Regions from separate parts of the Homo sapiens genome. Here regions 2 and 3 are each linked to region 1. The links come from fine-mapping of genetic effects on gene expression. A gene starts in region 1. Each other region holds a variant in brackets. All regions are shown on one strand. Distances are between the middles of the regions.

What was found. PIP is the estimated chance that this variant, and not a neighbour inherited with it, causes the effect. A credible set is the group of variants that fine-mapping cannot tell apart.
Region 2: its variant is the best candidate, but not a certain one, in a credible set for the expression of TRPT1 in fibroblasts (GENCORD, PIP 0.65).
Region 3: its variant is the best candidate, but not a certain one, in a credible set for the expression of TRPT1 in lung (TOPMed, PIP 0.80).

What each region holds. Positions count from the first base shown.
Region 1 is chr11:64,223,547-64,228,550 of GRCh38, reverse strand. TRPT1 (tRNA phosphotransferase 1) reads left to right here and starts at 2,365. Exons shown (of 8, transcript NM_001033678.4): 1 at 2,365-2,501; 2 at 2,682-2,765; 3 at 2,971-3,052; 4 at 3,581-3,750; 5 at 3,834-4,008; 6 at 4,210-4,266; 7 at 4,341-4,451; 8 at 4,584-4,735. The coding sequence starts at 2,691. The coding sequence ends at 4,675. It overlaps NUDT22 (nudix hydrolase 22), which reads right to left and starts at 2,277. Exons shown (of 6, transcript NM_032344.4): 1 at 2,124-2,277; 2 at 1,419-1,916; 3 at 885-983. The coding sequence starts at 1,898. It overlaps FERMT3 (FERM domain containing kindlin 3), which reads right to left. Exons shown (of 15, transcript NM_031471.6): 15 at 4,660-5,004. RefSeq lists enhancers at 1,099-1,616, 1,617-2,136, 2,737-3,459, 3,642-3,701 and a silencer at 2,162-2,571.
Region 2 is chr11:64,174,300-64,179,303 of GRCh38, reverse strand. It overlaps LOC124902686 (a long non-coding RNA gene), which reads left to right. Exons shown (of 2, transcript XR_007062712.1): 2 at 2,309-4,202. Among named protein-coding and RNA genes, the nearest start is that of STIP1, 9.4 kb to the left of the region's middle. The variant CA/A (reference allele first, on the strand shown) is at 2,478.
Region 3 is chr11:64,322,407-64,327,410 of GRCh38, reverse strand. LOC102723878 (a long non-coding RNA gene) reads left to right here. Exons shown (of 4, transcript NR_188518.1): 4 at 2,080-2,361. Among named protein-coding and RNA genes, the nearest start is that of PRDX5, 6.8 kb to the right of the region's middle. RefSeq lists a silencer at 1,919-2,071. The variant A/G (reference allele first, on the strand shown) is at 3,101.

The sequences.
Region 1 (5,004 bases):
CTGGGACTACAGGTGCCCGCCACCACGCCCGGCTAACTTTTGGTATTTTTAGTAAAGTCAGGGTTTCACCGTGTTAGCCAGGATGGTCTTGATCTCCTGACCTTGTGATCTGCCCACCTCAGCCTCCCAAAGTGCTGGGATTACAGGCATGAGCCACGGCGCCCGGCCACTTACTCCTTTTTCAACAGACTTGGGGAGTAGGCAAGATATTTATCATTGTTTCCATTGAAAAGAAGAATCCTTGGCGGGGCAAGGCATGAGAATCACTTGAACCCAGGAGGCGAAGGTTGCAGTGAGCCGATATGCCACCACTGCACTAGCCTGGGCAACAGAGCAAGACTCTGTCTCAAAAAGAAAAAAAAAAAAAAGAAGAAGAATCCGGCCTGGTGCAGTGGCTCACACCTGTAATCCCAGCACTTTTGGAGGCTGAGGCAGGCAGATCACGAGGTCAGGAGATCAAGACCATCCTGGCTAACAAGGTGAAACCCCATCTCTACTAAAAATACAAAAAAAATTAGCCAGGCATGGTGGCGGATGCCTGTAGTCCCAGCTACTCAGGAGGCTGAGGTAGGAGAATGGCGTGAACCCGGGAGGTGGAGCTTGCAGTGAGCAGAGATCGTGCCACTGCATTCCAGCCTGGGCAACAGAGCGAGACTCTGTCTAAAAAAAAAAAAAGAAAGAAAAAAGAAAAGAAGAAGAATCCAAGGCAGAGGGTACTGAGGGCTAGAATTCCACTCCAAGTATGTATAGCTGCAAAGCCAACTTCTTCCCTCATTGCTGGCCAGATGCCTGCAGGCCTCCTGCCAGCCCAGACCTGTAGAATTCTGGCAAGTCCTACCCCCTCCCTTCATGTCTACCACCCTGTCCAGGTCAACCTCACTCACCTCATCACAGATCTCCTGAAGGACACTGGAAAAGAGTTCATGTACCACCAGCTGCCCAGCGAGGTCCTGGTGCTGGGGGCTGCCACCAGGGCACAGGGCCTGTGAGAGGTCAGGCTCAGCCCCTGCTCCCCACCTCTTCCCCCTGCCCCATCTCAGGACCAGCAAGCCTATACCTGCTGGCCTTGAGGGTCTGATGTGGCACAGTGTAAGAGAGTTAGTGATCCTGAGTCTGGTGTCCTTTCCCTGACAGACAACCAGAGGTCCAGCTTCAAAGGAGATACACAGGGGGCAGGGGTGGAGTAGGGCATCTTCTTCCTGTGCCCAATCTTTCCTCCCGTGTTTTCTAGTTTCTCACAGGACTGGGGCAGGGGTCAGTGGGGAGGCAGGTGGACTGCCCTGAGCAAACTTCCAGAGAAATACCAGGCCAATTTTCCCTTTAAGGAATGAGGAAACCAAAGCTGGGAGGATTGGGAGGGTGGAGAGCTGCAGCTCCCTTGAGCTGTCTGGGTCTTTGTGCCCAGCCTGGAATCTCACCTGAGGCTCAGGGTGCCCACCAGGTACGTCCACCAGCCCAGGGGCCTCAGCCACCTGCCGGGAGCGGCGCAGGAAGACAAGGAAGTCATCGGCTGTGGCTAGTGCAGCGCCCACCCCCAGTGGGTCCGCCAGATAGGCCTGCGTGTCACCCCAGTCGGTGGCACCCTGCTGTCGCAGCCAGGCAGCTGAGCTGGACCAGTTGGTGCCCAGGAAGTCTCGGTAGGAAGTAAGGCCCAGGCGCAGGAGCAGCTGTGGCCCCCGAGAGCCAATAGGCGCCAGGGTGGCTGAGTGCAGGCGGAACTTGGGGGCGTCGAAGAGCCAGGGTTGGGCCTTTAGCCGGGTCTCCCAGATGGCAGTGATGGCCTCGTCCCCACCTGGCAGTGGGCGACGGTCATGGGCGGGGCTCAGCTCGGCCTGTATCTGCTCCTGGGGCAGGCCCCCGCCAGGGCACTGCAGCAGCAAGGTCACCTCAGGATCCATGGTCTGAACGGGGCAGCTCTGGGGGAGGATACGGCCAGGCCTGTCATCCAGGGGGGCCACTACCACTCCTGGGCTGCGCAGCTAGCCCCCTCTGTCGCAGACCTCCTGAGGGTATCCGCAGCGCTTCTCCACCCCCCTGACCACTCCTTGGGCAGTAAAACGTGCCATCTTCCCCGCAGGAGCCCCGAGTCCCGCAGGGTATCCAGGACGCCCGGGCATCCCTACCATCCAGAGGTCTTGGGTTCAGGCGCCCCAAATGCCCATGTCCCCCAAACCCAGGGGTCTGCCTCCGACCCGGGGCGCGCGGGGACCCCTTTCCAGGGCCCGGAAGCTCCAGCCTCCAGCGGGCGCTCACCAGCCGCCGGGTCCCTCAGGCTCCGCCCCTTCCCCGAAGCGGAAGTGCCCGCCCCCTTTCCACGCGGCTTTTCATTGGCGGGTCCGCCGCGGTCGAGGATCCTGGAGGTTTGTCCCCGCCGCCCCGACGCTTCCGCCCGGTCCGTCGGCACGTCGGCCCTGCCTCCCGGACCACCCTGCGGGGCGCACCAGCGATCTGGGGTGCGGGGCTCGGCCTCCCTGCGCTCCTGGCTGACCGTGTGACCTTGGGCAAGTCTGGCCTGCTGGGCCTTAGTTTCCCTCTCTGCAGCAGGGACTTGGGGGTGGTGAACTTAATGAGCCGTATACTCCCACCCAGCGCTCACTTCCTGAGGCTTTGTGACTTTCTGGGAGGGATGGGGACGTGGAAGGGGCCTTAAAGCAGTCCCCCCTCGTCACTGCCCCCCACAGGTCTTAACCATGAACTTCTCTGGAGGAGGGAGGCAGGAAGCAGCAGGGTCCAGGGGTAGAAGGGCTCCCAGACCCCGAGAACAGGTGCGCGCCTCCTCCCCACCCCCTCCCACCAGTCCAGGCTCCCTGGGAGTTGCTGGGGGGCGGAGCTGAAGGGTCCTACTATTCCTGGAGACCACTGGCACTCCTTTCTCTCTGGGCTCTCTCTGCAGTGGGTCATTGAGGGTTCAGGATGGGCAGTAGGGCAGGGTCACCATGGAGACTAGGGGCCACCGCTGGGTTCTTTCAGGACCGAGACGTGCAGCTGTCCAAGGCTCTGTCCTATGCCCTGCGCCATGGGGCCTTGAAGCTGGGGCTTCCCATGGGAGCTGGTAAGTAGGGGCCTTGGAGGCTGGGGCTTGAGCCCAGAGAGAAACGTGAGCCTGTCTGCGACTCCTCCCTGATGGCTGCCTCCACCGCTCCCTGAGGAAGGCACAGAGTGCACTTCCTCCCCATGCACAGAGGAGAGCAAGGCCTAGAGCCCCTGTCATGTCCACAGCAGACTGAGGAGAGTTCTTGTCTGGGCCAGGCCTGGTGACCGCCCCCTCCAGCCAAGCAGCCAGATCAGCACTTACCCCGAGGGCGAGCCCTGGAGGATACGGTGCAGCTGGTGGTGTGAGTGTGCACTCCGGGCCAGCGCTATGCTGGGCACTCACCTCCCTGCCCCTCCGTGAGGCAGATCCTCTTTTTATGTAAGTTGAAAAAACTGCGGCCCAGAAAGGGGAGACTTTCTAAAGGTCCCACAGAGGATGCCCAAGCGATCTCCAAGCCCAGACTTTGTTTCGGTTGCCTGTGGCTCCCTGTTAACCCTGGCCCAGTCCAGAGCAAGGTTAGCTCCTGAGCACCCTGCCTGCCCACAGATGGCTTCGTGCCCCTGGGCACCCTCCTGCAGTTGCCCCAGTTCCGCGGCTTCTCTGCTGAAGATGTGCAGCGCGTGGTGGACACCAATAGGAAGCAGCGGTTCGCCCTGCAGCTGGGGGATCCCAGCACTGGCCTTCTCATCCGGGCCAACCAGGGCCATTCCCTGCAGGTCGGGGTGAGGGGACAAGTGCGAGACGAGATGGGAGGGACCCCTGCCTGCGAAGGGGGTCTCACTGCTACCCGTTCAACCAGGTACCTAAGTTGGAGCTGATGCCCCTGGAGACACCGCAGGCCCTGCCCCCGATGCTAGTCCATGGTACATTCTGGAAGCACTGGCCATCCATCCTACTCAAAGGCCTGTCCTGCCAGGGAAGGACGCACATTCACCTGGCCCCAGGACTGCCTGGAGACCCCGGTATCATCAGTGGTCAGTGCCCTCCCCTCCACCTAGCTACTCCCACCCACTCTGTCCTCCCAGGTCCCCTTCAAAGGTTACAACACTTGTCTGGGGCCACCCCATGTCCGGCATGGAGCAGCACCCCTGCATCCCCCAGCCCAGGACCCCAGTCTGCCTAGGTTGCTGACTGCACTCCAGGTGCCCAGGCCTCAGCTCCAGCTGTCTCTGCAGGCATGCGGTCCCATTGTGAAATAGCTGTGTTCATCGATGGACCCCTGGCTCTGGCAGGTGAGTCTGGACAAAGCAGGAGCTGCCCTTGCCTTCGGGGAGGGCATGAGTCACATCTCTGGCTCTGTCAGCAGATGGAATACCCTTCTTCCGCTCTGCCAATGGGGTGATTCTGACTCCAGGGAATACTGATGGCTTCCTCCTTCCCAAGTACTTCAAGGAGGCCCTGCAGCTACGCCCTACCCGTGAGAACCACCACCCCAGCCCCTATTCCTTGTTCCTGAAAGCTGTGCCCTTCTGCCCTCACCTCTCTCCTAGCTTCCAACCCTAGACTGACTTAGGTGTCCCTTTCTCTAACCAACTCTTGTCTTTATCAGGAAAGCCCCTTTCCTTGGCTGGTGATGAAGAGACAGAGTGTCAGAGTAGCCCCAAGCACAGCTCCAGAGAAAGGAGGAGGATCCAACAATAAAATATTAATTTATAAAAAAGAAATTTTAAAAAGTAACAAGAAAGAACTCGTTTGAAACCATGTTTCATCATCCTGTAGCTACATCTGGTCTTCCTTGTGTGCTGGGGGACTGCAGATAGGTCAGGGGTATCAGCCTCAGCCACTCAGACAAGGAAAGGGGGCACCACATGAGCTCAGGGACCCCCACCCCCATCCCTGGCCTGGGTGATGGTACAGCGTCTGGCCCTGCCAGGTCCTTGGCCTGCACAAAGTCAGTGACAGCAGGTGAAATGCCCAGCTGGGTGCCTGCCTGGAGCGGGTGTGGGGCAGTGAGCCCCTGTGGGTGTGGG
Region 2 (5,004 bases), 49 kb after region 1:
GTCATGTCCAAGGATTTGTTCCTGCACTTTCCCCTTCGCCACGTATGGCAGAAATTCTCAGGAATTCTCATGAGCCAGTGTCATGCTAGTGCTTGTTGCATCTGCTCCTCTCCAGCCGCCCCAGCCCACTGATCCAAGCACTCTGTGAAATGACTTTTGTGTGTCGACTTCTTCCCACGAGGAAGACGTTTCTTTCATTGCCATGTGCTGGACCCCAGTGCAGAGCCCGGGGCATTGTCAGTGCTTAGTGTTTGTTGAATGAGCCAATGGAACTGGTCACCCTCCGCTGCCCTGGGGGTCCCTCAGCCTTTCCCAGAAGGTCCCTTGGACCTTCCCTCTGGGCTTCCTCACTCCCTTTTCTGCTTATTCTTTTCTGAGCCGAATTGTTGTAGCCCCTCAGATCCAAATGGCCCAACCCCACTGTCTCCTTCCCAGCACCTCTGTTGAGAAATACCAAGTGGTAGAGAGTGTGCCTGTGTGGACGTGGGTGGGATACGTGCCTCTTCTACACCGCCCGTAGGAAGGTACGCTTAGCAATAGCTATTGAAAACACAAAAGTGATTCTGCTCTTAGGAATGTCTCCCGCAGGGACCCTACCCTGGTGGCACAGGACGTCTCACACAGCACTGTCTGGGACAGCAAAAGGGATGGAAACCACCTGAGTCCAACTATGGAGGACACTGGAAAACACGATGCTGCCTCCATAGGATGGGATATTGGCAAGTGTGAAGAAACAACATTTGGGTAGATATTGACATGGCAAGGACATATGGTAGAATGAAAAAAGTTAGTGGTTGTGATATTGTGAATATAAGTATGCATATTTGGGTTTCACTTCCAGTTCCTGGCACAGAGCTCCTGAAACACTTGTAATTTCTTGAGTGATGGTGGGAGAGGAGCATCTTTTGTTACTCATAATGAGCCCCTTTCAACCATAAATTTATGCTAATGAGGTGACTCTTGGCGCATGAGGGTGGTAGCCAGGAGAAGGGGAACCCAGTAAATGATTAGAGGGTTCAAACCCTGGGGAGGGGAGATGGGGTGGACATTGAGTTAATTACCAGTGGTCAAGAATTAATCAATTATACCTGTATAATGAAGCCGCCCTAACACTCCTAAATGAGGCCGGATATAGTGGCTCACGCCTGTAATCCCAGCACTTTAGGAGGCTGAGGCGGATGGATCACCTGAGGTCAGGAGTTCAAGACCAGCCTGGCTAACACGGTGAAACCCCGTCTCTACTAAAAATACAAAAAATTAGCTGGATGTGGTGACACACGCCTGTAGCCCCAGCTGCTCAGGAGGCTGAGGCAGGAGAATCGCTTGACCTGGGCGGGAGGCAGGGGTTGCAGTGAGCCAAGATTGCACCACTGCACTCCAGCCTGGGTGACAGAGCAAAACTCCATCTCAAAAAAAAAAAAAACAACTAAATGACAGGGTTCAGAGAAGAACACATGGAGGTGCTGGGAGGGTGGAGTGATCAGAGAGCACTTGGAGGCTCTGCATCCTGCCTTCCACACCTTGTCCTATGCATCTCTTCCATCTGGCTGTTCCTGAACTTCTATCCTTTATGATAAACCGGCAATAGTAAGTTAGGCTGGGTGCAGTGGCACATGCCTGTACTCCCAGCTACTTGGGAGGCTGAGGCTGGAGGATCGCTTGAGCCCAGGAGTTCAAGGCTGCAGCGAGCACCACTGCACTCCTGCACTCCAGACAGAGACACTCTGTCTCAAAAAAAAAAAAAAAAAAAGTAAACTGTTTTCCTGTGAGCTGTTCTAGCAAATTATTGAACCTGAGGAGGGGGTCATGGGAACCCCCAATTCATATGTCAGAAGTATGGGGGACCCAGGACTTGCTCCTGGAGTTTGAAGTGGGGGTAGTCTTGTGGGACTGGGCCCTTAACGTGTGGGAGCTGATGCCAACTCCAGGTTGATAGTATCAGAATGGATTCAATTGTAGGACACCCAGATGGTGTTGGAGAGTTGGTCGATGTGGGAAAAAAAAACCCACACATTTGGTGTCAGAAGTGTTGTGAGTTAAAAAAAAAAAAAAAAAAAAAAAGCATAGTAGTTGTGGAACAGTGTGTATGGCTGAATCCTATTTTTGTAAAAATAAAATTATGTGTGTATCTCTTCACATATGATTATACATGCAGGGAAAAAATCTACGATACGCAGCCAGTGGCTACAGGAATTACCTCTGTGGACTGGGAACAGGGAGGCGGTGTGCTGTGATAGTTTGCTGGGGCTGTCATAACAGAATGCCACAGATGGGGTGGCTTAAACAACAGAAATGTATTTTCTTACAGTTCTGGAGGCTGCAAGCCCAGGTTCAAGGCATCAGCAGGTGTGGTTTCCTCCGAGGCCTCTCCCCGTGGCTTGCAGATGGCTGCCTTCTTCCTGCATCCTCACGTGGTCCCTCCTCTGCACTCCAGCATCCTTAATGTCTCTTTGTGTGTCCAACTTTCCGCCCCCCCC[CA/A]CCCCTTTTTTTTCTGATGGAGTCCACCCAGACTGGAGTACAGTGGCGTGATCTCAGCTCACTGCAACCTCCACTTCCTGGGCTCAAGTGATTCCCCCGCTTCAGCCTCCCGAGTAGCTGGGATTACAGGCATGTGCCACCATGCCTGGCTAATTTTTGTATTTTTAATAGAGATGGGATTTCACCATATTGGCCAGGCTGGTCTCAAACTCCTGACCTCAAGTGATCCACCCATCTCGGCCTCCCAAAGTGTTGAGATTACAGGTGTGAGCCACTGCGCCCAGCCCCGAACTTTCCTCTTAAAAGGATATCAGTCAGGCCAGGCGCAGTGGCTCATACCTGTAATCCCTGCACTTTGGGAGGTTGAGGCGGGTGGATTACTTGAGGTCAGGAGTTGGAGACCAGCCTGGCCAACATGGTGAAATCCCGTGTCTACTAAAAATACAAAAATTAGCCGGGCGTGGTGGCAGGCGCCTGTAGTCCCAGCCACTCGGGAGGCTGAGGCAGGAGAATTGCTTGAACCTGGGAGGCAGAGGTTGCAGTCAGCTGAGATCATGCTACTGCACTCCAGTCTGGGCAACAGAGCAAGACTCTATCTCAAAAAAAAAAAAGACACCAGTCAGACTGGAGTAGGGCTCACCCTAATGGCCTGATTTTAACTTAATTACCTCTTTTTTTTTCTTTCTTTTTTTGAGACAGAGTCTCGCTCTGTCACCCAGGCTTGAGTGCAGTGGCGCGATCTCAGCTCACTGCAACCTCTGTCTCCCGGGTTCAAGTGATTCTCCAGCCTTAGCCTCCCAAGTAGCTGGAATTACAGGCGTGTACCACCACACCAAGCTAATTTTTGTATTTTTTAGTAGAGACAGGGTTTCTTCATGTTGGTCAGGCTGGTCTCAAACTCCTGACCTCAGGTGATACACCTGCCTCGGCCTCCCAAAGTGATGGGATTATAGGTGTGAGCCACTGCACCCAGCCTTAATTACCCCTTTAAAGGCCCTATATGCAAATACAGTCACATTCTGAGCTACTGGGGGTTAGGGCTTCAACATAGGAATTCAGGCAGACATGATTCAGCCCATAACAAGGGCTTTCACTTTTTTTTTTTTTGTAGAAACAGGGTCTCACTATGTTGCCCAGGCTACTCTTGAACTCCTGGGTTCAAGTGATTCTCCAGCCTCAGCCCCCAGATTAGCTGGGGCTACAGGTGCACCAGCACGCCCAGCTAATATTTTTACTTTCATTTTTTTTAGACGGAGTTTAGCTATCTTTGCCCAGGCTAGAGTGCAATAGCGTGATCTTGGCTCACCACAACCTCTGCCTTCCGGGTTCAAGAATTCTCCTGCCTCAGCCTCCCAAGTAGCTGGGATTACAGGCATGCACCACCATGACCGGCTAATTTTGTATTTTTAGTAGAGACGGGGTTTCTCCATGTTGGTCAGGCTGCTCTCGAACTCCCGACCTCAGATGGTCTGCCCGCCTCAGCTTCCCAAGGTGCTGGGATTACAGGCGTGAGCCACCGCGCCCGGCCAATATTTTTTGTGGAGTCAGGGTCCTACTATGTTTCCCAGGCTGGTCTTGAACTTCCAGGCTCAAGCGATCCTCCTGCCTTGGCCTCCTAAAGTACTGTGATTCCAGGCCTGAGCCACAGCACCCTGCTGGCTTTCACTTTTTACTTTATTTCTATGTTGTTAAAATCTATTACAATAAACATTACTTTTAAAGGATTTTGTGCACTTCAATCCAAATGTCCCTGAAGCATCTACCTCCCTCCTGGGCCTTCTCTGAAGTCAGAGTAGGGGCAGCTGAAGCCCTCCCTCTGCTGGCTCCAGGAACGAAACCCCCTGGCCCACTAAGGCCCTTCCCCTGGGGAGGGTGGCGTGGGATAAGAACACTCAGTATCTGTCTGGCCCTCTCAAGATCACTGAGGACTTTCCCAGACAGCCGACATGGTCTTCAGATCAGTCTGCCAAACGTCACATAGAGGCTGGGCACGGTGGCTCACGTCTGTAATCCCAGCACTTTGGGAGGGCAACGTGGGTGGATCACCTGAAGTCAGGAGTTCGAGACCAGGCTGGCCGACATTGCAAAACCTCGTCTCTACAAAAATATAAAAGTTAGCTGGGCGTGGTGGCACGCGCCTGTAGTCCCAGCTACTCGGGAGGCTGAGGCAGGAGAATCACTTGAACCTGGGAGGCGGAGGTTGCAGTGGACCAGGATCGTACCACTGCACTCCAGCCTGGCCAACAGAGTAAGACTCCATCTCAAAAAAAAAAAAAAAATCAGGTGGAGGGGCATCCTCTGTTTTCCAGGCTCCTGGTTTATAGCTGCAAGCTCTGGACATTTAATACCTTGTAATCCATCCTTCCCTTATATACCTCTCAACATAATGACTGTACAATATGGCCAATGAAACGGATAGTAAAATGAAACATAGGCAAGTAATAAAGTGAGATATGAAGACAGTAGTACAACCTGGATGAGGGTGGAATGCAAAATTGTCATCAGAGAAGACGACAGGAGGACCTG
Region 3 (5,004 bases), 99 kb before region 1:
TCTCTAGTGCATACCTGTGAGCTAAGCCTTTGTTTTTTTGTTGTTGTTGTGTTGTTTTGTTTTGAGATGGAGTTTTGCTCTTGTTGCCCAGACAATGGCACAATCTCGGCTCACTGCAATCTCCACCTCCCAGGTTCAAGCGATTCTCCTGCCTCAGCCTCCTGAGTAGCTGGGATTACAAGCATGCACCACCACGCCCTGCTAATTTTGTATTTTTAGTAGAGACGGGGTTTCTCCATGTTGGTCAGGCTGGGCTCGAACTCCGGACCTCAGGTGATCCGCTCACCTCTGCCTCCCAAAGTGCTGGGATTACAGGCGTGAGCTACCACGCCTGGCCTTCACTTCTTTACTCCTTCCCAAAACGTGTTAAGTATTATCTGTGTTTCCCACCCTGAGCAGGGCTCCTTACCTGTGTTAAGTAAAAAGACATGATTCCCAACTCCAGGAGTGCGAGTTGATGATACAAATATAATCACATGGCAGGCCAATATGCATGCTCGTTAACACCAAGAATCTGTGCCTTCGCATAGATGTTACCTGAACTTCTCCAGAAGTTATACCCATGCACACTTTGCACTATCTGCTGTCACTTCTCAATGCCTGTGTCACCAAACCCCAACCACGCCCAGTAGAGTGTGTCCCTTTGGGGCCAGCAGCCTCCACTGCCCCTGATCACAGCACCTTCATGGCTGCAGCCCAAGCCTGATCTAGGCCAGGAACACCAGGACCCCTCCAACCTTTTCTTTGTCTCAGAAACCCAGACTTGACTCCCTTAGGGCCTATTGAAAACTCCCCCGATAGGCCAGGCGCGGTGGCTCACACGTATAATCCCAGCACTTTGTGAGGCTGAGGCGGGCAGATCACGAGGCCAGGAGTTCAAGACCAGCCTGGCCAACATAATGAAACCCCATCTCTACTAAAAAATACAAAAAGTAGCCGGGCATGGTGGCACGCGCCTGTAGTCCCAGTTACTCAGGAGGCTGAGGCACAAGAATCGCTTGAACCCGGGAAGCGGAGGTTGTGGTGAGACTCATTCTGTTGCCCAGGTTGGAGTGCAATGGCGTGATCTCGACTCACTGCAACCTCTGCCTCCCAGGTTCAAGTAATTCTCCTGTCTCAGCCTCCCAAGTAGCTGGGACTACAGGCATGGCACCACCATGCCTGGCTAATTTTGTATTTTTAGTAGAGATGGGGTTTCACCATGTTGGCCAGGCTGGTCTCAAACTCCTGACCTCAGGTGATCCGCCCACCTCAGCCTCCCAAAGTGCTAGGATTACAGGCGTGAGCCACCATGCCTGGCCTGATTTTTATCTTTCAAATAACCTTTTATTGAGCCTTTTTTTTTTTTTTTTTTTTTTGAGGCAGGGTCTTGCTCTATTACCCAGGCTGGAGTGCAGTGGCATAATCATAACTCACTGCAGTCTTGGCCTCCTGGGCTCAAGTGATTTTCCCAACTCAGCCTCTGGAGTAGCTCGAACTATAGGCACGTGCTACCACACCCACCCAATTATTTTATTTTTTTGGTAGAGACGGGGTGTCACTAATTTATTTTTATTTAGTTGTTTTTGTTTTGGGTTTTTTTTTTTTTGAGACAGAGTTTGGCTCTTGTTGCCCAGGCTGGAGTGCAGTGGTGAGATCTTGGCTCACCAAAACCTCCGCCTCCCAGGTTCAAGTGATTCTTCTGCCTCAGCCGCCCGAGTAGCTGGGATTACAGGCATGAGCCACCACACCTGGCTAATTTTGTATTTTTAGTAGAGACGGGGTTTCTCCATGTTGGTTAGGCTGGTCTCGAACTCCCGACCTCAGGTGATCCGCCCACCTCAGCCTCCCAAAGTGCTGGGATTATAGGTGTGAGCCACCACACCCGGCCTATTTTTATTTTTTTAGAGACAAGGTCTCGCTCTGTCACCCAGGCTGGAGGGTAGTGGCACGATTATAGCTCACTAACTGTAGTTAGTCACCAACTCCTGGTGTCAAGCGATCCTCCCGCCTCAGCCTCCTGAGTAGCTACGACCACAGGCATGCACTACGACAACTTATTTATATATTTACTTATTTATTTATTTATTTATTTTGTAGGGACGGTGTCTTGCTATGTTGTCCAAGCTGGTCTCAAACTGGCCTGAATCAATGCTTCCACCTCAGCTGCCAGAGGAACCGGGATTACAGGCCTGAGCCACTGCAGCCAGCCAGTTTGTTATTTTAATGTAAATTCTTAGTAAACAACTCAGGAGCTCTCTTGTCCTTTTAAAATCCATTTCAACTTCTGCTAATCGGAGTGTATATTCAGGGCAACTTGAATCTGTGCTCCTGGGATGCAATCCTCAAGCTTGGCCCAAATAAAGTCTCCGCTGATATTAATTTTGCCTAGGCTTCTTCCTTTTAGGTCAACACTCTTCAGGCTCATGTTGGGGTCTGTTCAGCTGCGTTTCAAAGGGACTCTAGACCCAGGAAGGCCCAGAACCACTGATGCTGAGTAACACCCTTGGCCTTCTGGTCTCAGTTGCTATGGCCTTGGGCATGCTAGGACAGGCAAGTGAGTTTCACTGGGGCATGTGTTGTTGGGTGGATGTTTCAGCTTCTTTTCTTTTTTTTTTTTTTTTTTTTTTTTTTGAGACAGACTCCTGCTCTGTCTCCCAGGCTGGCATGCAGTGGCACGATCTCGGCTCACTGCAACCTCCACCTCCCAGGTTCAAGCAATTCTCCTGCCTCAGCCTCCCTCCCCAGTAGCCGGGATTACAGACATGCGCCACCATGCCCAAGTAATTTTTGTATTTTTAGTAGATATGGGATTTCTCCATGTTGGCCAGGCTAGTCTCAAACTCCTGACCTAAAATGATCCACCCGCCTTGGCCTCCCACGGTGCTGGGATTACAGGTGTAAGCCACCCCGCCTGGCCTGTTATGTTTTTTAACATTGGTCTTTCGGCCACCAAGAGCCCAGGAAGGCCACACGCACAGCTCTGCCAGGTGCAGCCCAGATGTCCAGGGCTCTCTGGTCCAGGACACCGTGGCCTGGTCTGCCCTTATCTCCAGGCCTGAAGCCCCACCTGTCCAACCTGGAGACAGCTATGCAAGGTTCTCTTGCCAGGTGCTGTTTA[A/G]TCTTGGGCCCTCCAGGGCCTGGAGCAGCTTCCAGGGCCAGTCCTCCGTGCCCCCACCCAAGGACGTCCTCACTCCAGCAAGCTCAGCCACATGCTCAGCAGTCAGGGCCACTGAGGCCACAGCCCCACCGCCACCCACACCAGGCTGTCCTAGAGGGCCACCCCAGCCCTGGAAGCCCTCTCAACCCTTCCTAGAGGCCCAGCCAGTGGCAACAGACCTTGGAGGGGACACTTCCTCTAGAGGCCTTGCTTGGCCTCAGCCAGCCCAGATAATAGCCCAGGAGCAGAGGAAACAGGCAGCAGAGTGACAGAGACGGAGCTGGGCTTCCCCGATAGCAGGGAGCTGCCTGGGTAGCGTGGGGTGCACAGCCAGTGGGGTGGGCTATTTGCTACCACCACCCCCTATTTACTAATGGAGACACTCATTAGCTCACAGGTGCCCTGTAGGAAGCTCCACGTCTGTTTTCTCATTTGTATGATGAGAGGATAAAGAGGTGGTATCCGGGAAAGAAAGGGGCTTTGTGTTATGCGTGTCCATGAGGACAACACTGTACCCCCGAGTTTGGCAGGAGAGGAGAGGCAGGCAGTTTACCAGGGCAGCTCGAGGTGCAGTCAGCCTCCTTCCCTGCCCCCACCTGGGACCCCTGAAGGGGTGGCAGGTTGTGGGAGAGAACCACAGTGACAGAGGTTGGTGGGCAGCACGACTCGGGTAGGCTGAGCACCTGCAACCCTGGGCAGGGAGGCTGGCTCCCCTCCTACTGAGTGTCTGTTCTCACAGACGTGACCACAAGCACCCAGCCCCTCCACCTTCAGCAAGCAGCTCCCTGGATGCACCCTCCCTCCCAACACATCTCCACCTCCACCTCCTGGGCATTGCTGTCATCATGGGTCCTGCTCCCTGCTGCCCATCTGGTGCCTCTCCCAGCCTCCCAGCTTGGGGGCTGCACACGGTAGCCCATGGCCAAGGTGCCTGTAGGGTGGAAGGCAAGCTGCTCATCAGCTTCAGAGAGCCCACTGACCTCCAGGCATCCTCTCTTGTCCCCAACATTCCCCCCCTACTCCTGCTACCCACCTTGCTGCGGCAGCATGGGATTGTCCCACCCTCCACCCCTAGGGCTATGGGGCTCACCCCTAGGGCTATGGGCCTCCCTCCGCCTCCCACTTGAGGCGCCACTCCCACTGCCTCAAGGGTCATTTGCTCTATGAGGCCCTGCTTTGACCTTCTCCCTGACCTCTCAAGAGTGTGGCCTGCCTGAGTCAGCAGTGGGGGCTGACCCCTGGGGACCACTACGCAGGAAGTGCCTGGGAGCCAGGTATTGATGTGGTTCATGGCAGGGCAGCTCCACGCGGTGATGGAATGCGGACTCCCTGTAGGTGGCTGAGAGGCAGCAGCAGTCCACACCTCACCAATTCTTGTGAGGGCTGTTACCACACCTGGGGTGGGCAGGCAGGCAGCATCGCGCAGGGCACAGAGGCCCCCTAGACTCCACGCAGTGGGGCCTCACCATCACAGGCGTGGCTTCCCTGCACCAAGGGGCAGAGGCCCAGGAGCAGGGCCTGCCGTGGCAATGGCCCCCATCCCCACACCCTGCTGGTGTCCCCACTTGAGGCCCCTCACACCCAGCCACCACTGGTCAGGCCTCACCAGCATCTTCTCCCCTCCACAGCTCACCTAGACTCTTCCCCCAGGGAGCCCTCCTGGAATGAGCAAGTGCTGTGCCAGAGCCCCTCTCCCTGTCCATCAGATGGTCCTAAAGTGACCTGAGCTCTTCCTGGGATGAGGGTGTGCCCAGGAGGGGGTCAAGTCTGAAAGGATGGTGGGGCTGGGCCCCGGCAGGAATGCTGGGAGCCAAGCTTCCCGCCATGGGGTTTCCAGACTAAATGGCATCAGGCAGCACCCAGAG